2 separate regions of the Homo sapiens genome follow, and region 2 is linked to region 1. The links come from fine-mapping of genetic effects on plasma protein levels. Region 1 holds a variant in brackets. A gene starts in the other region. All regions are shown on their reverse strands.

Evidence for each region. A credible set is the group of variants that fine-mapping cannot tell apart. PIP is the posterior inclusion probability: the model's chance that the variant is causal. Protein levels are from antibody-based Olink assays in UK Biobank. Linkage for the fine-mapping came from a reference panel and not from the study's own genotypes, which makes the PIPs less certain.
Region 2: KLK8 starts here. The variant in region 1 is the best candidate, but not a certain one, in a credible set for the plasma level of the KLK8 protein (UK Biobank, PIP 0.83).

What each region holds. Positions count from the first base shown.
Region 1 is chr1:152,197,265-152,214,138 of GRCh38, reverse strand. All of the region lies in intron 1 of CCDST (cervical cancer associated DHX9 suppressive transcript), which reads right to left. It overlaps HRNR (hornerin), which reads left to right. Exons shown (of 3, transcript NM_001009931.3): 3 at 1-2,063. The coding sequence ends at 1,063. Among named protein-coding and RNA genes, the nearest start is that of CCDST, 16 kb to the right of the region's middle. The variant G/A (reference allele first, on the strand shown) is at 7,463.
Region 2 is chr19:50,988,855-51,002,266 of GRCh38, reverse strand. KLK8 (kallikrein related peptidase 8) reads left to right here and starts at 663. Exons shown (of 6, transcript NM_007196.4): 1 at 663-735; 2 at 1,092-1,169; 3 at 1,684-1,843; 4 at 2,009-2,271; 5 at 4,383-4,516; 6 at 6,053-6,259. The coding sequence starts at 1,100. The coding sequence ends at 6,208. RefSeq lists an enhancer at 7,760-8,054 and a silencer at 11,608-11,808.

The DNA.
Region 1 (16,874 bases):
GAGCTGTGGCCAACATGGAGCTAGCTCAGGTCAGTCTTCCAGCCACGGTCAGCATGGCTCTGGCTCAAGTCAGTCTTCTGGCTATGGCCGACAGGGCTCTGGATCTGGCCAGTCTCCAGGCCACGGCCAGCGTGGGTCTGGGTCAAGGCAGTCTCCCAGCTACGGCCGACATGGGTCTGGCTCCGGTCGGTCTTCCAGCAGTGGCCAACATGGGTCTGGCTTAGGCGAGTCTTCTGGCTTTGGTCACCACGAGTCTAGCTCAGGGCAGTCCTCTAGTTACAGTCAGCATGGGTCTGGCTCAGGTCACTCCTCTGGCTACGGACAACACGGCTCTAGATCAGGACAGTCATCTAGGGGTGAACGACACGGATCTAGCTCAGGTTCGTCTTCCCACTATGGTCAGCATGGGTCTGGCTCCCGTCAGTCTTCGGGCCACGGCCGACAAGGGTCTGGATCTGGCCAGTCCCCTAGCCGCGGCCGACATGGGTCCGGTTTGGGGCACTCCTCCAGCCACGGCCAACATGGGTCTGGCTCAGGTCGTTCTTCCAGCCGTGGCCCATATGAGTCTCGCTTGGGTCACTCTTCTGTCTTTGGTCAACATGAGTCTGGCTCAGGACATTCCTCTGCTTACAGTCAGCATGGTAGTGGCTCAGGGCACTTCTGTAGCCAAGGACAGCATGGTTCTACATCAGGACAGTCATCAACCTTTGACCAGGAGGGATCTAGCACAGGCCAGTCTTCCAGCTATGGCCACCGTGGCTCTGGCTCCAGTCAGTCTTCTGGCTATGGCCGACATGGGGCTGGATCTGGCCAGTCTCTTAGCCACGGCCGACACGGGTCTGGTTCAGGGCAGTCTTCCAGCTACGGCCAACATGGGTCTGGCTCAGGACAGTCCTCTGGTTATAGTCAGCATGGAAGTGGCTCAGGGCAAGATGGGTATTCTTATTGCAAAGGAGGAAGTAACCATGATGGGGGAAGTTCTGGCTCATATTTTCTCAGTTTTCCTAGTAGCACTTCACCCTATGAATATGTCCAAGAGCAGAGGTGCTACTTTTATCAGTGAATAATAAACATAAATGCAATTTACTCAAGTAGCAATTTAAGAAATAGGAAAGTCATCTATGAATTCATCATGAAAGACAAGCAATCCATCATGAAATTCGTTCTAAAAGTGAATCAATGCATTTCTGTCTCTTTCTTTAGAGCCTAAAACTGTAGCATATATCTTGTTATGGGGTTCCTTCCAAAGACTGTTAGGCATTTGTGCTACTTTGTTAGAAAATACTGAGTGGAATAACTTGTTAGAATGAGGGTTAAACTTTGAGGAATAATGAAAAGCTTTTAAAGAGCTTTGGGTTTAGTTGGAGTTGTCTTTTTGAGAGCTCATCATTCATTTATAGATGGTGCCAAAGCTAACCTTACATTTCTTAGAAGCAAAATATTACAAATGCATTACCAGTCCTAGATACAAAGCTTTGTTTTACAGCAATTAGTGTACCCTAATTTTTAGTGTGCCCCAAGTTTGGTGTGTCCCAATTTTTGGTATTGTGGCAGAAGGTGAAGGCTCTGAAAGCAAAGATGCAGCAGCGGTAGTGTCTTTACTTATCAAAACCATCAAGTCCTTTTTCTTGGGTATATATTTAATCAGTAAGTTAATTAGTGGCATAAAAAAGTAGCATCAGGGTCTTTTCCCAAGCCAGTGAGCAAGAGCATTATTTCATAAAGAATAGGGATTTATCATTTCAGGAAAAAAAAAAACATTCAAATGTGGGCTTTAGCTTGTTTTCAGCAGAAAGATCTTGCTCCCTATTTCTAAGAGGCTGCTCAATATTGGGAAATATATTGAGGAGTTATTCCATGGAAATACAATGCTTTCCACCTACTACTGTAGTTCAATAACGTTTCCACCTGAAAAAATATCATCCATGCCCAGATGAAAAGGAAGAGTATCTGTCACTGCTACATAGTTCCTTAATTTGACTGTAACACATTTGTTTCAAGTCTTTGGATTCAAACAACCGGATTGTATTAAAATTGACAATAAATAAATGTTGATTAAATACTAAGACTTTTCTCATCTGTGCTTCATTTCACTTCTTACATACAGATGGTCATCCTAGAAACCAAACCAAACAGCGATTTCCCAATATTCTATTTTTCACAATGAAGAATAGATAAAGCATTCTTAAAACTCAATAAGACAAACTACTTCATTTTAAAATGATCAAAATTCCATCACACTGGTATTGGCAATGATTTTTTTGATATGACACCAAAATCACACACAATAATGTGGAGCTGTCAGCTCCATACATTTTATTGTCCCTGAAGCCCTTAGAGGGAGACAACATATGGAGGTAGAAGGCGATATTTGTCTTGGTTTAACAAAAACTTTTTAGTGTTAGTTTTAATTTTTAACAAAAAAAGTTTTTTAAAAAAATTTAAAACAGAAAAAAGCCTACAGAATAATGATGTAAAGAAAAAAATATTTGTGTTCAGCTATACAATGTGTTCGTGCTTTAAGCTAGGTGTTAATTAAGAGAGTCAAAAAGTTTAAAAATGTAAAAGTCTATAAACCTAAAAATTTACAGTAAGCTAAAGTTAATTTTTACTGGAGGAAGAAATTCTTTTATAAATTTAGTGTAATTCAAGTGTATAGTGTTTACACACTCTACAGTAGTATACAGTAATGTCCTAGGCCTTCCCATTCACTCACCACTCACTGACTGACACCTACAGCAACTTCTAGTCCTACATGCTCTATTCATGGTAAGTGCCCTATACAAGTGTACCTTTTTTATCTTTTATGCCATATTTTTACTGTACCTTCTTTATGTTTAGATACATTTAGATGCACACTTACCATTGTGTTAGTTGCCTACAGTACTCAGTACAGTAACATGCTGTATAGGTTTGTAGCCTAGGAGCAATAATCTATACCATATAGCCTAGTTGTTTATTGGCTATACCATCTATATTTGTGTAAGTACACTCTCTGATGTTTGCCTAAGGGTGCATTTTTCACAACATATCCCCCATTGTTAAGCAACACGATTGTGTACTTTACTATAGGGCCTAGCAATTCCACTCCCAAGCGAAATGACAACGTATGTCTACATTGAAGATTTTTACATGAATGTTTATAGCAGCTTTAATAATAGCCCCAAACTTGAAACAATCCAAATGTCCACGAACAGATGACTGGATAAACAAATTGTGGTATGGCTATACAATGGAATTCTATTTAGCAAGGAAAAAAAGAATAAACTACTGATACATGTAACACAGATGAATCTCAAAAACACGTTGATCAAAAGAAGCCATCCACAAAAGAGTACATATTTATGATTCCATCTATATGAAACTTACTAAAACAAACCTAATCTATAAAAATAGAAAGTAGATCAGTGGTTGACTAGGGCTGGGAGTAGAACTTGTGAACTGTCTGGAAGAGTCACAAAGGAACACTCTAGGGTGATGGAATAAATCTATATGTAGATTATAATGGTAGTTACATATATATATACTTTTGTCAAAACTTACATAATCGTACATATTATGTGGAAATTATATCTCAATAAAGTTGATTGTTTAAAGGCTTTCTGTGCAACTTGACACACGAATTTTTTTTGTTTTTTGTTTTTTGTTTTTTGTTTTGAGACAGTCTCACTCTGTTGCCCAGGCTGGAGTACAGTGGCACAATATCGGCTCACTGCAACCTCCATCTCGTGGGTGCAAGTGATTCCCCTGCCTCAGTCTCCTGGGATTACAGGCAGGCAGCACCACATCCAGCTAATGTTTGTATTTTTAGTAGGCAGGGTTTCACCATGTTGGCCAGGCTGGTCTCGAACTCCTGACCTCAGGTGATCTGCCCGCCTCGGCCTCCCAAAGTGCTGGCATTATGTGAGCCACCAAGATACAGAAGGGGAGGAGTTTCATCTCATCAGATATCAAAATATATTACAAAGTTATATGATTTAAAACAGTGCAGTATTGTTGTAGGAACAGATATACAGAGCAATGTGACTCCAGAAACAGATCCATGCATACTTGATATACAAGAGCAGTGGTTTTGCTTATCAGTGGAGAGAGGCAACTCTTTCAATAAATGGTGCCAAGGTAATAAATTTTCCATAGGAAAAAAATTATCTCTATTTCACACCATTTACAAAAATCACTTCCAAGTAAATAAAAACCTAACTGTGATAAGCCAAACTTTTAAAAATTTTTAAAGAAAATATAGGAGAATATCTTTATGACTTTGAAATAAGTGCAGATTCTTTAAACAAGAAATATACAAACCACCAAGGAAAGACTCATGACTTTTACTATAATTAAATTACAAATGTCTGTAAATCCAAAGACAATCTCAAAAAGTAAAAAGGACAAACCACAGAGTCCAAGAACATTTTTGAAATGCCTATAAACAACAGATGATCAATAGCCGGATTATGTAAATAACTTATAAAAATTAAAAATTTAAAAAACAGCAAAACTTAGAAAATTCACCAAAATTTATAAAAATTAAAAATTAAAAAGAAACAGCAAAACTTATAAAAAGAAAATTCACCAAAGGTAATCTGAATGGCAAAGTGACATTTTTAAAACAATGCTCAGGGAAATAGATAATTAAAACACAATGAAATTCATTTCATACCCATCGGATCAGAAAAAAACTAAAGTCTGGCAATATCCAGTGTCGGGAGGATACTGAGCAGCAGGAGTCTGAACTGATACCTAATTAAGAGGAAATCTGGCAACCACAGACAAGTCTGTAACAGCAAAATGTTACAAACAACCTAAAAGTTCAATAGAAGAATGGATAAATTGTAATATACCCACACACTAAAATGCTATATAGCAGTTAAAATTCATGAGCTACAGGTACGTATATATCAACATGGACAAATTCCAAAAGTGTAATGCCAAGTGAAAAGGTTGCAAAACAAGTATACATGGTGTGATACCATTTATATAGGTTTACAATATACATAACAATACCATATATTGTTTGTGGTTAATACATATTTGGTAAATGTAAAAATCTTTATGGGAATGATAAACAGCAAATTCAAGACAGTGTGTACCTCTGGAAGGATGGAAGAAAATGGAACTGAGATCGAGTAAACAATACCAAAAGTTTTCTTAAGAAGATGGTATTCATTATATCATTCACTGACTTGTAAATCTACACTTACTTGTAAATCTTAAATTATTTTGTAAGAAAAAGGAGAACACAAAGAACAATGTTAGAATGCCCATCAAGGACTGCTCAAGGGAGAGTGTTCTGACAAGCTAGTCCACTGGTGTATCTGGTCCAGCATGTCCTAGTCTTTTAAATAAATGTCTCACCACATGAGTGCCTAATGATATTCATCAGCTGAACCACACAACACACCCTCTGCCACAGACTTCAAACACACCAAGGGGCCTTCTAGAAAATTTGGCTTTCTCAAAATTGACAAATGGGATCTAATTAAACTAAAGAGCTTCTGCACAGCAAAAGAAACTACCATCAGAGTGAATAGGCAACCTACAGAATGGGAGAAAATTTTTGCAACCTACTCATCTGACAAAGGGCTAATATCCAGAATCTACAATGAACTCAAACAAATTTACAAGAAAAAAAAAAACAACCCCATCAAAAAGTGGGTGAAGGATATGAACAGACACTTCTCAAAAGAAGACATTTATGCAGCCAAAAAACACATGAAAAAATGCTCATCATCAGTGGCCATCAGAGAAATGCAAATCAAAACCACAATGAGATACCATCTCACACCAGTTAGAATGGCAATCATTAAAAAGTCAGGAAACAACAGGTGCTGGAGAGGATGTGGAGAAATAGGAACACTTTTACACTGCTGGTGGAACTGTAAACTAGTTCAACCATTGTGGAAGTCAGTGTGGCGATTCCTCAGGGATCTAGAACTAGAAATACCATTTGACCCAGCCATCCCATTACTGGGTATATACCCAAAGGATTATAAATCATGCTGCTATAAAGACACACATACACATTATGTTTACTGCGGCACTATTTACAATAGCAAAGACTTGGAACCAACCCAAATGTCCATCAATGATAGACTGGATTAAGAAAATGTGGCACATATACACCATGGAATACTATGCAGCCATAAAAAATGATGAGTTCATGTCCTTTGTAGGGACATGGATGAAGCTGGAAACCATCATTCTCAGCAAACTATTGCAAGGACAAAAAACCAAACACCGCATATTCTCACTCATAGGTGGGAATTGAACAATGAGAACACTTGGACACAGGAAGGGGAACATCACACACTGGGGACTGCTGTGGGGTGGGGGTAGAGGGGAGGGATAGCATTAGGAGATATACCTAATGCTAAATGACGAGTTAATGGATGCAGCACAGTAACATGGCACATGTATACATATGTAACAAACCTGCACGTTGTGCACATGGACCCTAAAACTTAAAGTATAATAATAATAAAATTTTTTAAAAAAAGAAAATTTGGCTTTCCATAATTTTCCCAAAAGGAGAAAGCATTCATCAGCAAGATTAATATAAATACCCAGTGTTTCTGATAATGCATTTCTGACTGTAAATTAATAAAATGGCACTCTGGTTTTTATACTTCAGTCCCTGATGAGTTCAGTTACAATGAAACAGTTTTCCTGAGTCTGATCAACTCTGGGGCACTGATATGAGTGCATTTCTGGGTATATAAGAATGAGAACCAAACCCTGACCCTTTTTCTGGGCAACACCCCAACCTTATTCTTTGCCTTCCAAGGGGTAAGGGGCAAGAAAATTTTTCTAATAAGAGAAAGCAAACAAATTCCCAATAAATGCTTAGTTATATAGTTAAGCCAAGTTTTTCACAATGTTTCTCTTTTCCTTGTTATGACTCTAGAAACTTAAGAACCATAATGTTACAGCTAAAATAAGAAAAGAGAAAGAGGTGGGCTGTTTCAGGCAGGATCTTACAGAATCCCAATACCTCATCCCCAGATGGATCTCACTTTTGTTAGTTTTTGTCTGTACATTCAAATGTGATCAAGCTCTGGGAGACAGATTCACTCTAAGCAAAGTCTTAAGGGTCCAATTGATTTATTTACTAACTACAAGATAATAAACGTATTCAGAACAAGAATCAGCTGTTTAACATGGGGTATTCCCTGTCATTGGATAGATTCATTTGAGAGATATCAGGTTATTAGATGAGCTTCAGAGCAAAAGAGTTTTATTCTCCAAGGTTGTGCTATGGTAATCTGATGATTCAAAAATTTTTCCTAAAAGGGATAGAAAAATACAAAAGCAGCATTGTTATTGAACATCTTATGAACTGGGAACATTACATTATGTGCTATATACTTGACATATATTTATTTATTGTTTAATTTCATTCTCATAGCAACCCTGTGGTTATAAATGTTATTTTACTGAAGAGCAAACTGAGACTTTAAAAGGTCAA[G/A]TATATTATATTAGTAAAGTCAGGTTTTATACCTAAATCTGTCTAACTCCAAAACATATGTGTTTGCTAACATAACACTGTCTTGTGCTTCAGTAATATTTTTCTCTAAACAACTACAGTCAAACAACTAGGACTGGTGCAATCCACTCTTCTGGACACTGCTGGAGACACACCAACTAGTACTCATCCTCAGACTCCCCCTTTCCTGCTTCAATGCAACCAAACTTAATGTCTTGAGAGAGACTTGAGGAACACCCTGCTCATTAGCAGCACTTAATTTCCAAGGGTGGACTCCTGCTGCAGATAACTCATCTCTTCACATTTTATTTATTTCATCACATTTAACAGTTCTCATTAGTTTCAATTCCAGAGGGTGGCATTTTCTGACTTGACCTCCTTAATGCATGCCTTACTTTGTAGGTCACCAGGGACTAATAATAAACAATCACACACAGTCTGGTATCTTTTGAAAGATAAGTATCTGATACCCAATTCCTTCAATAGCCTGTCTCAGCCCTCTTCCTCTACCCCTCCTGTTCTCTCAGACTCCCTGACTCTGTGTGCTCTACCCTAGAAACAAAGGGCTCCTGAGCATCACCACCCACCTTGGTTTGTCCTTACCTACAAATTCTTGCCAGAACACTCCAGATGTTGAAGACTTAAAATTGTGACAAATCAGCCATGCAATATTCATAGACTTCACAAGCAGAGAAGTGAACTCCATGTGCAAAGACACTGAGGAAATAGTGTTCTCAGGGATCAAAGAGTATATGTCTTTGGCTGAAGCATGTAGAAAAACCAGTATCAGGAACTGCAGCTGGAAAAGCAAGTTGGAGGCAGGCTGTAAAGGGCTTTAAATAGAATCACATGAAGGAGGCGGAGAAGAAAGGTCAGTGAAGGACACTGATAAAGATGAATCAAAGTTGGAGGAGAGGCAGAGAAAATGGTGTTCTAGAACCCAAAGAGAGGGAATTTCACTAAGTAATGGAAGATAAAATGCATTTTATAAAGTTATTATAAATACTCTTCTGCCAGATAGCATATTGGCAGAAGAGTAGATAATACAGATCAATATAACAATAAATAGCCCAGAAACAGATCCTAATATATATATTTTTAATTAATTTGTGAACTGTCTGCTACATAGTTAATATATATAGTGTACTTAGAAAAGTGTCTGGTCCACAGTAATCATCTAATAAATATTAGTGGCTATCTTTATTACTACTTGTTGTTATAATTCTTATTAAATATCAGTGTGAAAAGATTCTTTAAAAAGTTTGTAGTAAAGAGGAAATAAGAGAGTAGGCAAGGAAGAAAGAAAAATCCTTTATAAAGGAAGAAATTAAAATATATGCTGGAAACACAGGCAGCATGCAATAAAAATTTACTGAATGTGAATAACAGTTCTAAGTCAAGTGGAAGGTGATTTATAGAAAGTAAGAATCTGTTGATACAGAGAAAGGAATCGTTGTTGGATCAAGGACCTAGAAGGAATGACAGAAATTGAATCAAATATACACATAGAGAAATCAGTCTTGGAAAGGAAAAGAATACCTCATATACTCTTGAAACAAAAAGGAGATTAAAATTCAGCAAAAATACAATTACCTCCATGTTTTTAAAAGAGGTTCCTAGGATGAGCTGCATCAGAATCACCTATGGTAATTATTTAAAAAGCAAACTGATGGCCTCTATCCCAGATCAACTAAATCCAAATTTCTAGTAGATGGGACCCAGGAATCTGTATGTTAGTGGTCCATGACCTAGTTGATTCCTTTTAGAAACAAAGTTAGGAGAATTCACATCCGTTGGCCCCTATGGAGACAACAAAACTGACTCCTTGCCCAACCACCATTATGACTAAGCATATAAAGTCGCACCATTGGAGAGGAAAAACAAAAATCTTTACAACCCTGAGATAAGCTAAAAATGAGGAAGAAGATTCTACCTAGTCTTCCAAATCAATGAAGCCTTGAGCCCTTTCCTATAAATTGCTAACTCTCTAATGTAAACAACTTCATCCCTGACTTTTGCAACACTGACACCTACAAGTATGATAATGATATGGAGGAAATTTTTTCATCCACATGAATAGACTAACTGTAATCTTGGTAGCCTGACTCCTCATTCTTTTTGAATCACTTCCCAATCTTAACAAAGAAGGAAGTAAAGTGATCTACTAAAAGGAAGATGGGGAGGGAGTGAAGCAGGAGGCTTAGAAAGATCTGAAAAGGGAAAGGTCTGAAAATTCCAGCTGAGGGGTCTGGTAAAAGAAACCACCTAGGTATGATGAAAGGGATTGCCAGGCAATATTCAGAGTGTGGGCAAGGTTAATATAATAAATGTGTAGAAATAAGCTAAGGCACCATGTATGTGATATTTGCCATCTTAACAGCCTGGCAGAAGAAGCCAAAAAAAAAAAAAAATGGAATTAGGTTAATCCCAGGTTTGAGACTGGCAGGGCAGGTACAAGGAAAAATGAAGGGTCCAAGGACACATAATGGTCTGTAGAGAAGGTTATAGGTATGGGAGGAAAAACCAGAAACCCTTACAGCAGGGGTCCCCAACCCCTGGGCTACAGACTAGTACTAGTCTGTGGCCTGTTAGTAACCAGGCCACACAGCAGTAGGTGAGTGGCAGCCCACCGTGCATTACTGCCTGAACTTCGCCTCCTGTCAGATCAGCAGCTGCATTAGATTCTCATAGGAACACGAACCCTATTGTGAACTACACCAGGAGGGATCTAGGTTGCATGTGCCTTATGAGAATCTAATGCCTGATAATCCAAGATGGAACAGTTTCATCCCTAAACCATCCCACCCCCACTGTTCTCCCATCCATGGAATAGTTGACTTCCATGAAACCAGTCCCTGCTGCCAAAAAGGTTGGGAATTGCTCCCTTACAGGCCCCCTCCTTGGCCCAAACTATATGTGTGTGAAGGGACGGATAATTTTATAGCCAAATTTCCCCTAGGCAAGACCTTACACTCTCGACTCCATTATTGTAGGAAAGATGGGCCTTGTTAGCAGTAGCAACTTTTCAGGTAAAATAAAACTAACAATATGGAATATACTAGGAGCTATGTACCAATGTCTCATTACTTACCCCTTTTTTGCCTTCACAATAACTCTTTGATGCAGAGATCCTTAAACTTCTCCTCAGTATGCAAATTGAGGTTATAAATCCAAGGACACACAGCTCACCTATGATGTAGTTCAGATTTGAACTCAAGTGTGACTATGAACTCATTCTCAATCTACTAGCCCACAGTGACTTCACCAGAACAGCCAGGCTCCACTTCACAGAAAAAGGAAAACAGCATCATTAAAGGAAAACCAGATTTCTAAGAGCAAGGGATGGCAGGGAGTAAGGATATAGGGATATTTCTTGGCAACAAAACCAAAGAGAATGAAACATAATGTAGGATAATTAGCAGTGAGAGCACAGCAAATAAAAGGCAATAAGTAGCTGTAAATATTATATCTGAAGGCATGTGTGCATGGGGAGTAGTGGAGGTGAAGCTAAGAGCCAAGTGGAGAAGGAAGTGAGAGGAAGAAAGTGAATTTAGCCCACTCACCATCATTATCTCTGACATCTCTCAAAGGAAGTAGAGTGGGAAACAAAAGGAGATTAAAGCAAGTTTGTCTAGATAGGAAGATTCATCATGCCTGGCAGGAGGGGGTCACTGTTATTGCAACCTTTAACCCAATCCTTTTCTCTTCTGCCCACTTTGGGGAGTGATCTGGGTGACTTGGTTTGTTCTTTTTTGAGATGCTTACCAATTGCTGACAACAATCACAATGCATTATAACATGATTGAGGCCCACAACTTCAAAAGTGTGATGATGGAATCCTAGATAGATATGAAAGAAGGCAGGAAGGGGACTGGCAGACTGAAAAAATAGAGACAGGATAAGGAACAGATTTCTTTGAAATGTGCATACCCTGTCTACCAGCAGTTCTACTCCTACTCGTATACCTCAGAGGAGTTTGCATGCAGACATACTTCATTTTATTGTGCTCCACTTTATTGTGCTTCACAGACTGTGTGTTGTACAAATTGAAGGTTTGAGGCAACCCTGTCTGGCAAGTCCATCGGCACCATTTTTCCAACAGCATGTGCTCCCTTCATGTTTCTGTGTCACATTGTGGTAATTCTCACAATATTTCAAACTTTTTCACTATTATTATATCTGCTATGGTGATCTGTAATAAGTGATCTTTGCTGTTACACTTGTAATTGTTGAGGGCACCACAAACCTTTCCTATATGAAACAGAGAGTTTAATCGATAAATGAGTGTTCTTACTGCTCCAGTGATCAGCTGCTCCCCTTTCTTTCTCCCTCTAGTCAGGCCTATCTATTCCCTAAGATACAATATTGAAATTACGCCAGTTAGTAACCAGACAATGGCTTCTAAGTGTTTCAGTGAATGGAAGAGTCACATGTCTCTCACTTTATTTTATTTATTTATTTATTTATTTATTTATTTATTTATTTATTTGAGACAGAGTATCACTCTATTGCCCACGATAGAGTGCAGTGGCAAGATCTCGGCTCACTGCAACCTCTGCCTCCCGGGTTCAAGCGATTCTTATGCCTCAGCCTCCCAAGTACTGGGATTACAGGTACAGACAACCATGCCCTTCTAATTTTTAAATTTTTTGTAGAAATGGGATATCATTATGTTACCTAGGCTAGTCTCGAACTCCTGGCCTCAAGTGATCCACCTATCTCGACCTCCCAAAGTGCTGGGATTACAGGCATGAGCCACCAGGCACAGCCACATGTCTCTCACTTTAAATAAAAAATAAGAGCTGGGCACGGTGGCTCACACCTGTAATCCCAGCACTTTGGGAGGCCAAGGCAGGCAGATCACCTGAGGTCAGGAGTTCAAGACCAGCCTAATCAATATGGTGAAACCCTGTCTCTACTAAAAATACAAAAATTTACCAGGCGTGGTGGCAGGCACCTGTAGTCCCAGCTACTCGGGAGGCTGACACAGGAGAATTGATTGAACCTGGGAGGCAGAGGTTGCAGTGAGCCGAGATCATGCCACTGCACTCCAGCCTGGGCGACAGAGCGAGACTCCATCTCAAAAATAAATAAATAAATAAATAAATAAGATTAAACTTAGTGAGAAAAGCATGTCAAAAGCAGAGAGAGGCCAAAAGCTAGGCCTTTTGTGCCAGTTAGCCAAGTTTGTGAATGCAAATGAAAAATTCTTAAAGAAAATTAAAAGTGCTACTCCTGTGAACACATGAATGATAAGAAAGCAAAACAGCTTTACCACTGACTTGGAGAAAGTTTTAGTGATCTAGATAGATCAAACCTGCCACACCATTATCTTAAACCAAAGCCTAATCTAGAGTAAGGCCCTAACTCTCTTCAATTCTATGAAAGCTGAGAGAGGTAAGGAAGTTACAGAAGAAACGTTTGAAGCTAGCGGAGGTTGGTTCATGAGGTTTAAGGAAATAAGCCATCTCCAGAATATAAAAGTGCAGGGTGAAGCAGCACATGCTGATGGAGAAGCTGCAGCAAGTTATCCAGTAGATCTAGCTAAGATAATTGATGAAGGTGGCTACACTAAACAACAGATTTTCAATGTAGATAACACAGCATTCTATCAGAGGAAGATGTCACCTAAGACTTTTATAGCTACAGAGATGTCAATTCTCTGGCTTCAAAGCTTCAAAGGACAGGCTGACTCTCTTGTAAGGGACTAATGCAGTTGGTGACTTTAAGTTGAAGCCGATGCTCATTTACCATTCTGAAAATCCTAGGGCCCTTAAGAATCATGCTAAATCTACTCTGTGCTGTATAAATGGAACAGCAAAGCCTGGATGATGGCACATCTGTTTACAGCATGGTTTACTAACTATTTAAGCCCCCTGTTGAGACCTACTACTCAGAAAAAAGAGATTCCTTTCAAAATATTACTGCTCATTGACAATGCACCTGGTCATCCAACAGCTCGGATAAAAATGTACAACGATGTTTTTCCTGTGCCTGCTAACACAACATCCATTCTGCAGCCCATGGATCAAGGAGTGATTTCAATTTTCAAGTCTTCTTATTTAAGAAATACATTTTGGAAGATTACAGCTGCCATAAATAGTGATTCCTCTGATGGATCTGAGTAAGGAAAATTGAAAATCTTCTGGAAAGGATTATCCATTCTAGAAGTCATTAAGAACATCCACGATTCACAGAGAAGTCAAAATATCAATATTAACAGGGGTCTGAAAGAAGCTGATTCTAACCCTAATAGATTACTTTGAGAGATTCAAGACTTCAGTGGAAGAAGTAACTGCAGATGTGGTGGAAATAGCAAGAGAACTAGAATTAGAAGTAAAGCCTGACATATTTACCTAGGTAACAAACTGCACATCATGGACACATACCCCAGAACTTAAAAGTCAAATAAAAAACAATAAAAACAAATTGATTAAAAATTTTTTTTTAAAAAGTAGAGCCTAAAGACTTAATTGCTACAATCTCATGATAAAACTTAAACAGATGAGAAGTTGGTTATGAATGAGCAAAGAAAGTGATTTCTTGAGATGGAATCTACACCTGGTGAAGATGCTATGAACACTGTTATGATATTCCATAAACTTAGTTGATAAAGCAGTGGCAGGGTTTGAGAGGATTGACCAATTTTGAAAGAAATTATACTGTGGGTAAAACTGTATCAAACAGCACTGCATGTTAGAGAGAAATCTCTCGTGAAAGGAAGAGTCAGTCAACACAGGAACCTTCACTGTTGTCTTCCTTTAAGAAATTGCCACAGCCACCCTAACCTTCAGCAACCACCACCCTCATCAGCCAGCAGCCATCAACATCAAGGCAAGACCCTTCACCAGAAAAAAGATTACAACTTGCTGAAGGTTCATTAGCATTTTTTAGCATTGAAGTATTTTCAATGAAGGAATGTATACTTTTTTAGACATAATGCTATTGAGCACTCAATAGAGACTACTCTACAGTGTAAACACACATTTATACACACTGGGAAACCAAACAATTCATGTAACTCACTTTATTGCAATATTCTCTCTAATGCAGTAGTCTGGAACTGAACCTGCAATATCTCCAAGGTTTATCTATATTTGTGATAATAATATCTAATAGTTATATAAAACATACTATGCACTAAGCACTACTATGTATAACTCTCTCAATTACCCTAGGAGATAGACCATTCCAGATCACCATTTTACTGATGAGGCACAGAGGTTAAGTAATTTGCTATGGTCACATAGCTGCTACTGAAACCAAGCAATGAGACTCTAAAGTTTTTGTTCTTAACCCAGGGCACCACATGTGGCTATGCAATTCATTCACTGTCCCAGTGGTGCCAAGAGGAAGCAAGTTGGCACAGAAATCCAATCCATGTCCCAGTTAATAATCCATGCATACCTAGTTAAAAGCTACATCCACCTCAGTACTTTTATCTTTGCCCCAGGCACTTTCTATTTGCCAAGCTGTGAGCTCAGAGGACTAGGTCCATAAAAAGAGGAAGTCTTTCTTATTCACACAAAGGTGCCATATAGTCTAGCTGTGGTGCTACCTTAGCCATGGCACTACACTGACCTATTTTGTTTGGGAAGACATTTACAAGGGTGTTTAATACAGCATTGTTTGTAATAGTGAATTTGGAAAATGGATAAAGTATACTATATTCTTATATTGGAAAGCTACAGTGCACCTAGAAGAAAATAACTATTATATATACACATAGATTTTAAAAACATAATAACTTTGAGTGAAAATCAAGTTGCAAACTATTAATATGTACACTACATTACATAAATTTTAAAATGTAGTTACATATTTTATACATATATATACACATATATTTATACACATACATCACACATATTTACCAAATTAATTTTGGTGGTACTTCTGATAAGAAAAAAAAAAGATTAGAACTTGGGGGTGAGAAACACAGGAGACTTAAATTTACCTGCAATGTTTTATTCATTTTAATAAGACCTGAAGCAAATACAACAAAAAGTTTACTACTGTCAGCTCTAGATGGTAGCCATGCAATTACTCAAGATAAAAATAAAAAGACTATTTTTTAAGAACAGGCTTAGTGGGAACTTAAGAGTAGGAGAGCTAAAAGGCCATTCTGTGTGATCAATGAGTGACATTTCAGGGTTCACAGCTTCAGAGGTGGAGCAGTTATGGTTGATGACAAGGTCCAGGGGGTGGTCATTTGAATAGCTGGCTGAGGTAGAGTGGAGGTAGAGATCAATAGAGTGTAAGAAATGATGGATCCAGATGCATCACCAACATGACTGTTGAAGTTTTCCAGAATGATTATAATAGCTAGGGTGGAAAGAAATAGACAGTTGCCAAAGTCTTCACTGAAGATTATGTGGTTATAGGGGAAGGAGATCAGTCAAGGAAAAAGTAAGGATGGAAAGAGGGTGGAATGTATGTGCATCAATGAAGGAGTGTTTATTGAAAGAAGCCACAGTGGTGAGCAACAAAATCATGTTCAACGCACCTCTAGCCACAACACAACAGAGGGAGAATGTGTAACCTGTACTTGGAACTGCTGAAAAGTAGTATCATTCAGGAAAAGTCTAGTTTCGGTTAAGGTGAGGAGGTAGTTACTTCAAAAATCCTACTGAAACTCTAACTTTGTAATTCATTGACCCAAAGCTATGGGTTCAATCAGAAAGGAGCAGTAGATTTTACCAATAAGCCAAAAGAACAAGAAGGAGAAGGAGGATCATGAAGAGGAGGAGGGAGAAAGAAAAGAGGAAGGAAGGAAGGGAGAAAGAAAACAACAAATGAAAAAAAAAGAGAGAGAAAAAAGAAAGAGAGAGAAAGAAAGAACAAATGAATGAAAGACAAAAGAAAGAAAGAGAGACAGAGAGGAAGAAAGAACAAATGGAAGAAAGAAAAAGAAAGAAGAAAAGAGGAGAAAGGAAGAGGAGAAGGAGGAGGAGGAAGAAATAAAGGAAAGAAAGGAAAGAAAGAGAAAGAAAGAGGAGGAGGAGAAGGAGAAGAAAGAAAGGAGGAGGGGGGAGGAGAAGAAGATGAGGAGGAGGAGGAAGAGAAGAAAGGGAGAAGAAAGGAGGGGAAGGAGGAAGAGAAGAGGGAGAAAGGAGAGAGAAGGAAGGAGGAAGGGGGAAGGGGAAAAAGGAAGGGGGAAGGGAGAAAAAAGAAGAAGAAAGAAGAAGGAAGAAGAGGAAAGAAAGAAGAAAGAAGGAGAAGGAGGAGAAGGGGAAGGAGGAGGAGGGGGAGGAGGAAGAGGAGAAGAAGAAAGAAAGAGAGGAAAGAGAGAGGGGAAAGAAAGAAGGAAGGAAAGAAAGAAGGGAGGAAGGAAAGAAAAGGAAAGAAAGAAGGGAGGAAGGAAAGAAAAAGAAAGAAAGAAAGAAAAGCTCTC
Region 2 (13,412 bases), not on the chromosome of region 1:
CTCTCAGGGGACAGCGGGCGGGGCCTGATCCACCCTCTGGTTTCTGACCCTAGAAGACCTGCCTTTCTTCGGTTCCCGGTTACTGGCAGCAGCCCCCTCCTCCCACAAAAGATCAGGTTCCAAGCTTCTCCTTTTAAAAGTACTTAGAATTCAGCCCCCAGCTCTCTCCTCCCTCACACCCAGGAATCCAGGCCCCTAGCCCCTCCTCCCTCAGACCCAGGAGTCCTGGCCCCTAGCAGCCCCCTCCTCCCTCAGACCCAGGAGTCTGGGCCCCCAGCCCCTCCTCGGTCAGACCTAAATCCCAGGTCCCAGTCCCTCCTCCCTTAGATTTAGGAGTCCAGGCCCCCAGCCTCTCCTCCCTCAGACCCAGGAATCCAGGCCCCCAGCCTCCTCCCCTCTCAGAACTAAAATCTTGGCCCCCAGCCCTTTATGTTTCAGATCGTAGAGTCTCAGCACCGAGTCCCTCCTCTCCCTAGCCTCAGGAGTCTGAGATTCCAGCCCCTCCTCCCTCAAGATTTCACGTTCAATCCCCTCCGCCCCTTCTCACTCACACCCAGTGTTCCAGTTCCCAGAAGCTCCCCAGGCTCTAGTGCAGGAGGAGAAGGAGGAGGAGCAGGAGGTGGAGATTCCCAGTTAAAAGGCTCCAGAATCGTGTACCAGGCAGAGAACTGAAGTACTGGGGCCTCCTCCACTGGGTCCGAATCAGTAGGTGACCCCGCCCCTGGATTCTGGAAGGTGAGGTGCAGAGGTACTCAGATACAGACATCAGGCCCCGGACCCTCCTTCTCCAGATTCCAGGACCCCAGCCTCAGATGCCCTTCTCTGTCGAGATCCAGCAGTCTGGACCCCGGCTTCCTCCTCTCCCTAATTTAGGAGTCCCAGCTCCCAGCTCCCTGTCCCCTCAGACCCAGACATCGAGGACTCCCCCCTCCCTTGGAATGTAGGAATCCAGTCCCCCAGCCTCCTCCTTCCTCCAGAGAAGCCCAGAACAGCCCCAGATACTCTCGGCTGCCTCCCCAGTGCCCAAATCCAGAACTGGGAGCTCAGGCTCCTCCTTCCTGTTTACCGGCCCCGCCCTCTCCATTTCCCAGACCTCACCATGGGACGCCCCCGACCTCGTGCGGCCAAGACGTGGATGTTCCTGCTCTTGCTGGGGGGAGCCTGGGCAGGTGAGGAGGGTTGCGGAGGCCTCCGGAGGGGAGGGATCTGAAGGCAGCAGTGGCGCTGGGGAGTCTGTGGGAATGCCGCGGGGGTTATGTGGGTGCGTGTGCACGGATGTGAAGAGTGCGATACGGTGCAGGAGCCTCTGTGGGCTTTCCTCAGGGTGGACAGAGGCAAGAAACAGGTAGCAGCAGGTAGGAGTAGGTTCCGTGATGCTGTAAATTGTCTGAATAGCTACAGCCTTTGGGGGCTGCTTGCTTGGGGGCATAGATTCACCTGGGAGTACTCGGGGCCTGTAGACTCATGTGGAAGCATGTGGGGGCATTCTTGGGTGTGTGACTCTTGTATGATGACACATGGACTGAAATGAGTGTCCCCGTGTGGCAGCGTGTGGAAGCCTGGACCTCCTCACTAAGTTGTATGCGGAGAACTTGCCGTGTGTCCATTTGAACCCACAGTGGCCTTCCCAGCCCTCGCACTGCCCCAGAGGGTGGCGATCCAACCCTCTCCCTCCTGCTGCAGGACACTCCAGGGCACAGGAGGACAAGGTGCTGGGGGGTCATGAGTGCCAACCCCATTCGCAGCCTTGGCAGGCGGCCTTGTTCCAGGGCCAGCAACTACTCTGTGGCGGTGTCCTTGTAGGTGGCAACTGGGTCCTTACAGCTGCCCACTGTAAAAAACCGTGAGTGGATGATGGGGGCAGAGGTCAGCTGGGGCTTAAGGAAAGAGGGGGCTGGGGTTTCGACTCAGGAAGGAGAGAGCTGAGGACTGGACTCCTGGGTCTGAAGGAGGAGGGGGCTGGGGGCAATACCCCTGCCTGGGTCCCAAACTATCCCCACCATTACAGGAAATACACAGTACGCCTGGGAGACCACAGCCTACAGAATAAAGATGGCCCAGAGCAAGAAATACCTGTGGTTCAGTCCATCCCACACCCCTGCTACAACAGCAGCGATGTGGAGGACCACAACCATGATCTGATGCTTCTTCAACTGCGTGACCAGGCATCCCTGGGGTCCAAAGTGAAGCCCATCAGCCTGGCAGATCATTGCACCCAGCCTGGCCAGAAGTGCACCGTCTCAGGCTGGGGCACTGTCACCAGTCCCCGAGGTAGTGGGCTTGTCCACTAATGGGAGGGAGAGGAGGAGCTGGTTGGCCCAGTGGAACCCAAGCTATTGGCAAAGCTTGGTCCCCCAGAGGGAGACAAAGAAGGGAAAGTGATCATGATGTTGAGATTCACAAGCAGGAGTCATATGAGAAGCCTCGAAGATCTGACTACTAACAAGAGTGGTGAGAGAAAGAACCAACTAGCAGATTGTTAAGCAGGGCCAGAAAAGCCCATCCTGTATGGCGGAGAGCACTACCCTATGGGACCTTTGGTTGTATAGGATTTTATATAATCTTAACACACTTGGGATATTTGGACTTCTCAGAGGCCCAGGAAAACAGGCTCCTAAGCACCTTCTCCCCCACCTCCCTCCTTTTTTTTTTTTTTTTTTTTTTTTTTTTTTTTTTTTTTTTTGCAGGGGGACACAGTTTCACTCAATCGCCCAGGCTGGAGTGCAGTGGCACAATCTCAGCTCACTACAATCTCTGCCTCCTGGGTTTAAGCGATTCTCGAACCTCAGCCTCCCGAGTAGCTGGGATTACAGGCACCCGCCACCACGCGAGCTAATTTTTGTATTTGTTGTAGAGACAGGGTTTCGCCATGTTGACCAGGCTGGTCTCGAACTCCTGACCTCAAGTGATCTGCCCGCCTCGGCCTACCAAAGTGCTGGGATTACAAGCATGAGCCACCGCCCCTGGCCTTTTTCTCCTTCTTGAACCCAGGAAACCTGGGCCCTGGTCACCTCTTCCCTCAGACCCGGGAGTCTAGGCCCTTCTTCTCCCAGGACCCAGCAGTCCTAGCTCCCTCTTGACTCTGGACCCCAAAATCTGGACCTCCAATGAAGCTGTCCCTTTGGGACTCCAGAATCCAGAGAGCCCCTCGCCTTCCTTCACAGTGAAAACATTGGGACTCACCTAAGAGAGTCAAGGAGCTTCTCCAGGAAGTGGCAAAGTCAGCATTCAGGTCCCTGCCTGCCTCACTCCTGCTCTGAATGCTTTGGATGAGACAGTTTGCGGCTGTGGAAACACACGTGCTCGCAAATCAAGTAGATCAGTTCAAACTATGGCTCTGCCCTTTCTCCCTGGGCAAATTCCTTTCCATCTCTGAGCCTCACTTTCCTTATCTGCAAAATGGGAATCATTAACCAATAGATTTTTTAGCTACGTGAGGGTTCAGGTTACATCAGTTTTCTTCATTGTGTTCTCCTAGTGCTCAGAATGGTGCCTGCTACATGGTAGATGCTCAATAAATATTTGTTGAATGGATGACCTGATGAATAAATAATGAAATGAATGAATGCATCTCTCCTTCAAAGCGCTGTTGTGAGGATTAAATGAGATTATGAGCATATTGCTTTTGGCACGTAGAGATGCCAGATGGAAGTTTTTCCCCCTCAAAGAGGCTTTGGAGAAGTCTATTCCTCAAAAGAGGTTAATAAAAAAGATCAATTCCACCTTCAATCATTAATTCAACTCTTATTTACTGAGCACCTAGTATGCCTGAGGTGCTGTTGCAGGCGCTGGATATACAGCCATGAGCAAACTGTACAAAGTCCTTGTCGTTATGGAGTTGCAAGCTAGGTGGGAGAAATAGACAATAAACAAATACACATAAAATAAAACATTAGGCAAAGTGCTGTAAGGAAATATTGTGGAGCGTAAAAGGATAGGGAGTAATGGAGGGATGGTATTTTTTAATTCGAGTGGTCAGGGAAGGCTTCCAGGAGGAGGTGACACTTGGAAGGAGCAGGATTTAGCACAGATTGAGGACCCGGTTGTCTGAGGGCAGGAAGACTGGAAAGAGAGGGTCAGAGGTATCATAAAGGGGCACCTCCAAGTAACCCCCAGCCCCTTGATTTGAAAATGGCTCAGGGTAAGAAAAAACACGTGAGATCCAAGGGCCCCTCTCTAGATGGAGAAAGCCCAATAGCAACAAGTACAGCTTCGTTTAATGTGGTGAGAAGTGATGTCCCCTGTGCACAGTGTCAGAAAATTCCCCCATGCAGCTGGAAAACTCCCCCATTACATCCTGGAAAGAAAGGGGGTTAGATCCAGACAGGGATGGAGGCAAAGGGCTGCTCTCTCAGGGAACCTTACAACCTCTTCCCCCTCAGAGAATTTTCCTGACACTCTCAACTGTGCAGAAGTAAAAATCTTTCCCCAGAAGAAGTGTGAGGATGCTTACCCGGGGCAGATCACAGATGGCATGGTCTGTGCAGGCAGCAGCAAAGGGGCTGACACGTGCCAGGTGAGCAATTTCTGAAATCCTTCTCCTCACACATCCCTCATTGCCCTCTCGAGGTTCAAGGCTTGGATGGGGGTGGGGGTGGTAAGGGAGTGACCCCAAAGACTTGGCACCCGGAGTGTTCACCCCTATCTCTACGGATTGGGAGCCAGGTTCAGAGAAGCCAAACTCTCTCTCTGAAAGTCACACTGCATAGGGATTAGGAGCATTGAATTGCTGCTGCTGTTTTCTTTCGAACGCTTAACTACAGGATGGGATGCAGAGTTGGGGGCTATAGAGGGTGGGGTAGATGTCCAGCAAGGAGAGAGTCTGAGGCTAGAGTTTAGACGAGTTGCCTGCTCTCTGGTTCCCAGCATTACATCGTGGAATTTGTGCCGACTTTACCACCGGCCCGGTGGTCAGCCACTTTTCTTTGAGACCGGGCTAGAATCCCAAGGCTGGTTCCCTTCTCCTGTGATTGGTTCCTTGGGAGACAATGGTGTCTTCCCAGTTGGCTGGAGTAAATGGTGCCATTGACTTCAGTGCTTCCTCAATGAGCTCCAATCCCTTTCTCTTGGGATTTGTCATAGATATAACTCTCTCTTCTAACTGCAACTTCGTTGTTCCTAGCACTTTCCCCTGGCTTTGTCCACTTCCTGGAAGCCCCACCACCTTTGCCAATGACTGGTCCCTAAATACAATGCTTTCTTCCCCATTGGCCAAAAATGGAGTCGTTTCCATCAGCGATACTGCCATGAAAGCCAGTCTCTGGATTGTTCTGTAGAGATAGTGGTCTCTTCCACAAATATTTCAGCCATGGTCTCTTGGGGATATGGTGTGTGTGTGTGTGTGTGTGTGTGTGTGTGTGTGTGTGTGTGTGTCCATAAGAATCTTGATCCTTTCTCCTATGTTTGGCAACTGCAATCAATGATGCCTTCACTATTGGCCAGGAACAGAGGAAACTTCAGCTCAGTCCTCTCCAAGTAATCCCTACTGTCTTCTCCCTGGATTGGACCCTCGAGAACTCTTTTTTTTTTTTTTTTGAGACAGGGTCTCGCTCTGTCCCCCAAGCTGGAATGCAGTGGCACAATCTTGGCTCACTGCAGCCTCTGCCTCCCAGTTCAAGCAATTCTCCCACCTCAGCCTCCCGAGTAGCTGTGATTACAGGTGTGCACCACCACACCCAGCTAGTTTTTGTATTTTTAGTAGAGACAGGGATTCACCATGTTGGCCAGGCTGGTCTGGAACGCCTGACTTCAAGTGATCTACCGCCTCGGCCTCCCAAAGTGCCGGGATTGCAGGTGTGAGCCACCAAGCCTGTCTGGGATTTCATTCTTTCCCCTCTTCTGTCAGTGTTTTGACCACTACCCTTAGACACCATGTCTGTCTGTACATGGAAGCCCCAAGCCCTGTCCTGACTGGTCTCAGGGGACAATGCTTTTACCCCCATTGGCTACAGGGGACCAATCATGCCAAAGAACTGGTAAAACGCTGGGACAGCAGGAAAAGGGACGTTGTGGACATCTCAGATGCAAGGCTGTTCTCATTCTCCCTGTCTAGGGCGATTCTGGAGGCCCCCTGGTGTGTGATGGTGCACTCCAGGGCATCACATCCTGGGGCTCAGACCCCTGTGGGAGGTCCGACAAACCTGGCGTCTATACCAACATCTGCCGCTACCTGGACTGGATCAAGAAGATCATAGGCAGCAAGGGCTGATTCTAGGATAAGCACTAGATCTCCCTTAATAAACTCACAACTCTCTGGTTCCTTGCCTGTCTCTGTTTTGGCCCTGTGGGGAGGGCTGGATGGGGATCCGGGATTGTTCCTGCTGGCAGACTAGGTGGGGATGTGCAGAAACCAAGTTCTCATGGTCACTTTGGCCATCACCACTGCCTAAAGTGATCCCTCGTTTTCTGGAAGAACTTGGGTAAGAGCTTTATTTCAGGGGAGAAAATACATACAAAGGTCTTCAAACATTCAGTGGGCTGGTATGTGAAAGACAGTTTTGAAAGAGTTTGTGTTTAGTTTTCCTGAGCAAAGCATTTACAAGCTTTGGAGATAAAATTTTCCCCCTTTAAAAAATAATTGGCCAGGTGCGGTGGCTCAAGCCTGTAATTTCAGCACTTTGGGAGGCCGAAGCGGATGGATCACCTGCGGTTAGGAGTTCGAGACCAGCCTGGCCAACATGGCAAAACCCCGTCTCTACTAAAAATACAAAAATTAGCAGGGTGTGGTGGTGGGCATCTGTAAACTCAGCTACTCAGGAGGCTGAGGCAGAAGAATCGCTTGAACCCAGGAGGCGGAGGTTGCAGTGAGCCAGGGATCATGCCATTGTACTCCAGCCTGGGTGACAAGAGCAAGACTCGGTCTCAAAATAAATAAACAAATAAATTAATAATAATAATTGTGCCAGGTATGGTGGCTCATGCTTGTAATTCCAGCACTTTCACAGGCTGAGGTGGGAGGATCACTTGAGCCCAGGAGTTCAAGACCAGCCTGGGCAACAATGTAAGACCTCATCTCTATTTTTATTTAAAAAAAAAGAAAAAAAGAAGAAAAGGGAAAACATTGGGAGATATGCATAGAAAAGAGTGCAGAAAATATATGAACAGCTTAAATATTCACAAATGAACAACCATGAAACCACCACTCGGGTCAAAAATCTTGAGAGCTCCCAAAAATCCAGATAGAACTCTTTCTCACAGCCTAGAGCCATCTGGTGGTGTCTGCTGTGGTAGAAGGAAATGAGTGGTGTGTCCAAATTGAAGTGTGACGCAAAGGGCATTTGGGAAAGTTTTCATTAAAGCAAAGGCTTAACATAACTTGTTTTAGGGAAAGATGAGTGTGGAGGGGGTAGTTATTACAAGGATATAGTCACTCTTCTAGTGGTGCAGGCCAGGTGGGCCCAAAACTGGAGCTTAGCCAGGGAGGGTTCCTGGCTTTGTCCAGGAAATAATTCAAGGGCAACCCAGTGGTGTTAGTGACTTTTCTTGAAACAGTACTGCACAGTAGCAGAGGTACTGCTCTTTGCAGAGCAGGGCTACCCCATAGGCATTGAGCACAAAGTAGCAGCTCAGGGCCAGTTCTGTAGTCATATTTAGTCCCATTTTCAATTACATGCAAATTAAGGGGTGGGTTATTCAGAAATTTCTAGAAAAGGGCTGATAAATTTTGGGTGTTGTCATGGCAGTGGCAAACTGTCATGGTGCTGGTGTGCACGTCTTATGGAGATGTGCTTTTGGTGCCTTTTCCCTGTTCCAGCTGTCTTCAATCTAGTCCAGAGTTAAACCCCGCCTCCTCCTTCACTAGGATCTTTAGAAAATAGTCTCATGAAAGAGAATCTGATTCATCTAGCTCACCTTTTCTTCTTCAGCCACATCATTGGTCACTGAATGGCCAATCATTTGATGGCATCCCAGTCAGGTGACCAAATCTTAGCCAATCAGTGGCTACTTGGAGTCATGTGATATGAAACATGGCCACTTAGTGCTATGGGAAGGCAATTCTCCACAAGGGGCGTGGGTGTGTGAGATACCTTGCATTCATCAATCTCCCTGATGCTTTATGACAGTTCCCCCATACCAGAAATCCTGAGGAAGTCTTTCAAGCATGGCATTAAACTTCTGATGCCAGGGATGCATTTCTGGGGGGGACATCTCAACTCAAAGAATTGTTTTATAATTTTTATTATGGAAAATTTCAAACACATGCAAAATAGAATAACATAATGTGTCTTCATATACCACCATCCAACTTCGATAATGAATGCAAGGTCCGGTGCAGTGGCTCACGCCTGTAACCCCAGCACTTTGAAAGGCCGAGGCACGAGGATTGCTTGAGCCCAGGCATTCAAGACCAGTCTGGGCAACATAGGGAGACTGGTCTCTACAAAAGATTAAAAAATTAGCTGGGCATGGTGGCATGCGTCTGTGGTCCCAGCTACTCAGGAGGCTGAGGTGGGAGGATCACTTGAGCCTGAGAGGTTGAGACTGCAATGAGCTATGATTGTACCACTGCACTCCAGCCTGGGTAACAGAGTGAGACCCTATCTCAAAAAAAAAGTTAATGCAAAACCAATTATTGTTTCACCTATACTCCCACCACACACTTCCCTAATGCCAGAATATTTTGAAGCAATCTCAGTCACCACAACATCTCATTCTTAAATATTTTATTATGCATTTTTAAAACAGGGGATGGCAAATTACAGCTGTTGGACCAAATCTCCTGAGCTAAATTTTTTTTTTTTTTTTTTTTTTTTGAGATGGAGTTTCGCTCTTGTTGCCCAGGCTGGAGTGCAATGGCGTGATCTCGGCTCACCGCAACCTCCGCCTCCCTGGCTCAAGCAATTCTCCTGCTTCAGTCTCCTGAGTAGCTGGGATTACAAGCATGCACCATCACGCCCGGCTAAAATTTTTTGTATTTTCAGTAGAGACAAGGTTTCTCTATGTTGGTCAGGCTGGTCTTGAACTCCCGACCTCAAGTGATCTGCCTGCCTCCACCTCCAAAAGTGCTGGGATTACAGGCGTGAGCTTGATAAGGAATAGCAACAAAAAATTTGTACTAAATTATCATTACTACATTTTGAATTTCATCAATTAAAAATTGTGAAATTTTATTTTCTTTCCTGCTATTAAATATCTACATAATATCTTCCATTTTTCTCTCTTGGTCCACATAAGCTAAAATATTTACTCTCTGGCCCTTTATTTTAAAAATTTGCCAATCCTTGTTCCAAAAGAGACTCGTTTTAAACATAACCAACTTACATTATCACACCTTACACAGTTGATACTTTCTTAGTATCATCCAATGCCAAGGAGATTTTTTTCCTTTTTGAGACAAGGTCTTACTCTGTCACCCAGGTTACAGTACAGTGAGCATTGCACAAACAATGCTTAAGGCAGTTTCTACCTCCTGGGTTTCAGCCATCCTCCCACCTCAGCCTCCTGAGTAGCTGGGACCACAGGCATGTGCCACCACGCCCAGCCATTTTTTTTTTTTTTTCAGTAGAGCTAGGACTCTACCATGTTGCCTAGGCTGGTCCAGGAGATACTTTAATGTCTCCAGTGGAACATAAGCCTGAAAAGACTTGGGGATTGATTTACTCAATCTTAGGTACTAAGGAGGGGCATGGAGGGAACATAGCAGCTACTAACAGAAACAAAAATCTCCTTTCTCCTGGCATCTTGATATTAATCCCAGGGAGGAACTCTAATTGGTCCAGTTTGAACTGGGCCCACCCCTTGAATCTATCATTGTTGCCAGAGAGAAAACACTGATCTTGTTGACTTGGCCTGGGTCATTTCTCCGCCTCAGTGGGTGGGTGGAGTTGGAGAACTACGATTGACAGTTTCACCAGAACTATAAGAAATAAGGCAGCATCTCCCCCAAAAGAAATGGGGTTCTGCCGGAAGGTGGAGGTTGCAGTGAGCTGAGGTCGCACCACTGAACTCCAGCCTGGGTGACAGAGTGAGACTCTGTCTCAAAAAAAAAAAAAAAAAAAAAAAAAAAAAAAAAAGAAAGAAAGAAAGAAATAAGGAGGAAGAGAATCCAGGAAGTATGAAACAATGGGCCATCAGAACCCATGGGCTGAGTCAGGAGGTACGAGGGTCACAGTGTTCAGAATCCCTCAGGGAAAGGCATAGCTGGCAAGATTATCAGATGCCAGTTCTCAGGTGTGATCATAAGGTGGAAGATGAGTCATTTAACAAAGGTTCAGGACATAGGTCTGAGGACGATGGAGGTATGGGGCTGGGTGTCTGGATGACACTTAGCAACAGGTGCCAGGACTAAATGCAAAGGGCACAGGGGGCCTGGATATGGGCCTCTCTCTGACATGGGGGTATGCATCATTAATAGGCTGAGGGCGATCCAAGTCTGTTTTGAACCAAATGAGACTCAGAGGGTACATGTGGATGTAACAAGGAAATTTCCTTCTCAGAGTATGGATTTGTGCAGTAGTGATACCATAGGCCTTTGAATCCCAATGTTCAAATTCTGGCTTTTTTTTTTTTTTTTTTCCTGAGATGGAGTCTTGCCCTGTCACCCAGGCTGGAGTGCAGTGGTGCAACCTCGGCTCACTGCAACCTCTGCTTACTGGCTTAAGTGATTCTCCTGTCTCAGCCTCCTGAGTAGCTGGGAGTATAGGCACATGCCACCACATCCGACTAATTTTTTGTATTTTTAGTAGAGATGGGGTTTCACCATGTTTGCCAGGCTGGTCTCGAACTCCTGACCTCAAGTGATCCATCCACTTCGGCCTCCCAAAGTGTTGGGATTACAGGCTTTAGCCACCACGCCTGGCTGAATTCTGACACTTCTGACTCCTCAGCTCTGTGACTTTGCTCAAGTGATCTAGCCTTTTTTAAACCTCCATTTTCTCATCTATAAAATGGGGATGATGGGGCAGGCGGCAAAAAATAAAGGTAAAATGGGGATGACAATCCTCACCTGGACCAATGTGAGGAATACAGACACACCACACTAAATGTAGGGGGGAAAATGGGAGCTGCTTCTTCATTCCGTGGGTGATGGGCTGAGGGAACTCATGTTAATTCACTGGCTGTTATGTGCCCATCAATTTTCCATTCATAATTTTATTTAATCCTCTCATTTGCCTCGGTAAATAGGTTTTGCTCTCCTCCACTTTGGGGAGGGGCAAAGTCTGACTCAGAAAAATGAAGTCACTTACCCGAAGTCACAGGGTGGGCAACCAGGATTCAAAGCTGGGTTGAAAGTCCAAGTTCTTTCTAGTTCTTTCTGTCACACTGCATGGTGGAACAGCTCAGGGATCAAGGCAGGACTGAATCTAAGGCCTGTGGACCTGTGGATGCCAGAAGTTTGCAGACTAGTATTTATTTAAGTACCTCCTGTGTTCTCCGGTCTGGGCGGGGTGCTGGAAAAAAAAAAAGAACCCCACACACATTTCCTCTGCTTGTGATGACCAGTGTTTGGCAACAAAATCAGGTTAAATAATTAGGAATATAATTTACAGAATGATAGATGATGAAAAGCAGAGGATAGACGTTTTGGTGACTTAGGAGTGAATAACAGGGCTCTAGAGTAGCCTGGCTCCTTCCTCTTTCTAACAGATACTAAGGAGGCAGAGGACTGAGGGAGGAGAGAATCTAAGGATGAAGATGCAGGGAGTAGATAATACACTGGAAGTCTTGCTACCATTTCTGTCTTTGAGAAGCCAGGAAGGAAAGATACAGATTGCTGAATCATGGAGCTGTGAGGTCAACTGGGCTGGAGTCTGCTTCTCCTTGATTTGGGAGCCCAGGTCAGGAATGTTGACACCCTTCACGACCAGATTGCTGCTGTGGAATGGGCAGGGCTAGATGTCCAAGTTCGGGGATCTGATTTTGGATTCGATGACAGTAAATGTCTCAGAAGATTTTGGGACTCGGCTTGAGTTGAGTTAGTATAGCATCAATGTTAGCAAGATATTCGTTGGCAGACTTTATTTTAGAGTTTTTGTAAAATGAAGAGTCAAAGTTGTGTGGTGAGCTGGAGAAATAAAAATGGAACTGGGAAAAGAATTGGGGATGGAAATGAGAATGGGATTTTAGGTAGCAATTGGGTTGAGGATGAGAATAGGGGTGGGATGGGGTGAGAGTGTTAGAATTGGTGTTGGATGTGAGGGAATGGGTTCATGGGGGAGGATATGAATGTGGGCTTCCTAGAATATGATGGGAATGGAGACTAATGTCTGAATTATCCCGTGGCAGGCTTGATACTCAGGCTATGGTGACATTCACTGCTCAGGTCAAGGTTGAGTTTGGCTTATGGCTAATGGTTCAGGGTTAAGGTCAAGGGTCAGGAGGGTTAAGTTTGATTGAGGTCTGGATCCTAGCCTGAGTTGATATTTGGAGTCAAGAACTCAGTCAAGATTTAGGTTATTGGTTGAGATACAAATTGGGGTTCATCAAGGATAAAGCAGAATTTGAGGTTCAGGATTGGGTACAGATTAAGGTTTGGGGTTAAGACTGGGGCTTACTAAAGAGTCAAAAAAACAATAGATGTTGGCATGGATGTGATGAAAAGGGAACACTTATACACTGCTGGTGGGAATGTAAAGTAGTACAACCTCTGTGGAAAACAGTATGGTGATTTCTCAAAGAACTAAAAGTAGATCTACAATTCAATCCAGCAATCCCACTACTGGGTATCTACCCAAAGGAAAAGAAGTCACTATATCAAAAAGACACATACACACGTATGTTTATCGCAGTACAATTCACAATTGCAAAGATATGGAACCAAAGTAAGTGCCCATCAACTGATGAGTGGATAAAGAAAATGTGATGTGTATGCACCACGGAATACTACTCAACCATAGAAAGAATCAAATAATGTCTTTTGAAGCAACTTGGATGGAGTTGGAAGCCATTATTCTAAGTGAAGTAACTCAGGAATGGAAAACCAAATGCCTTACGTTCTCATGTGTAAGTGGGAGCTAAGCAGTGGGTACCAAGTGGTATAATGGACACTGGAGACTCAGAAGGGGGAGGGTATGAAGAGGATAAGGGATAAAACACTATAAATATTGGGTACAATATACACTACTTGGGTGATGGGTGCACTAAAATCTCAGACTTCACTGCTATACGATACATCCATGTAACCAAAAGCCACTTGTACCCCGAAAGCTATTGAAACAAACAAAAAGGCTGGGGCTTATGTCAAAATACGTGTTGGGAGTTGTGTCAAAGTAAAGGTTGGATTTAGGGTTCTGCTTGAAGTCAGGGTCTGAGGTCTTTTCTTGTCATATCAGAACCATTTGACCACATCTACCATGTCTTCTCAATGAATGGCATCACTGTCCATCGAGCAACAGACTTTGAAATCTTAACATCTTCCACTACCTCAACACAACCTTCATTCAATCCATCACCAAGGCTTGTTGATTCTCTCT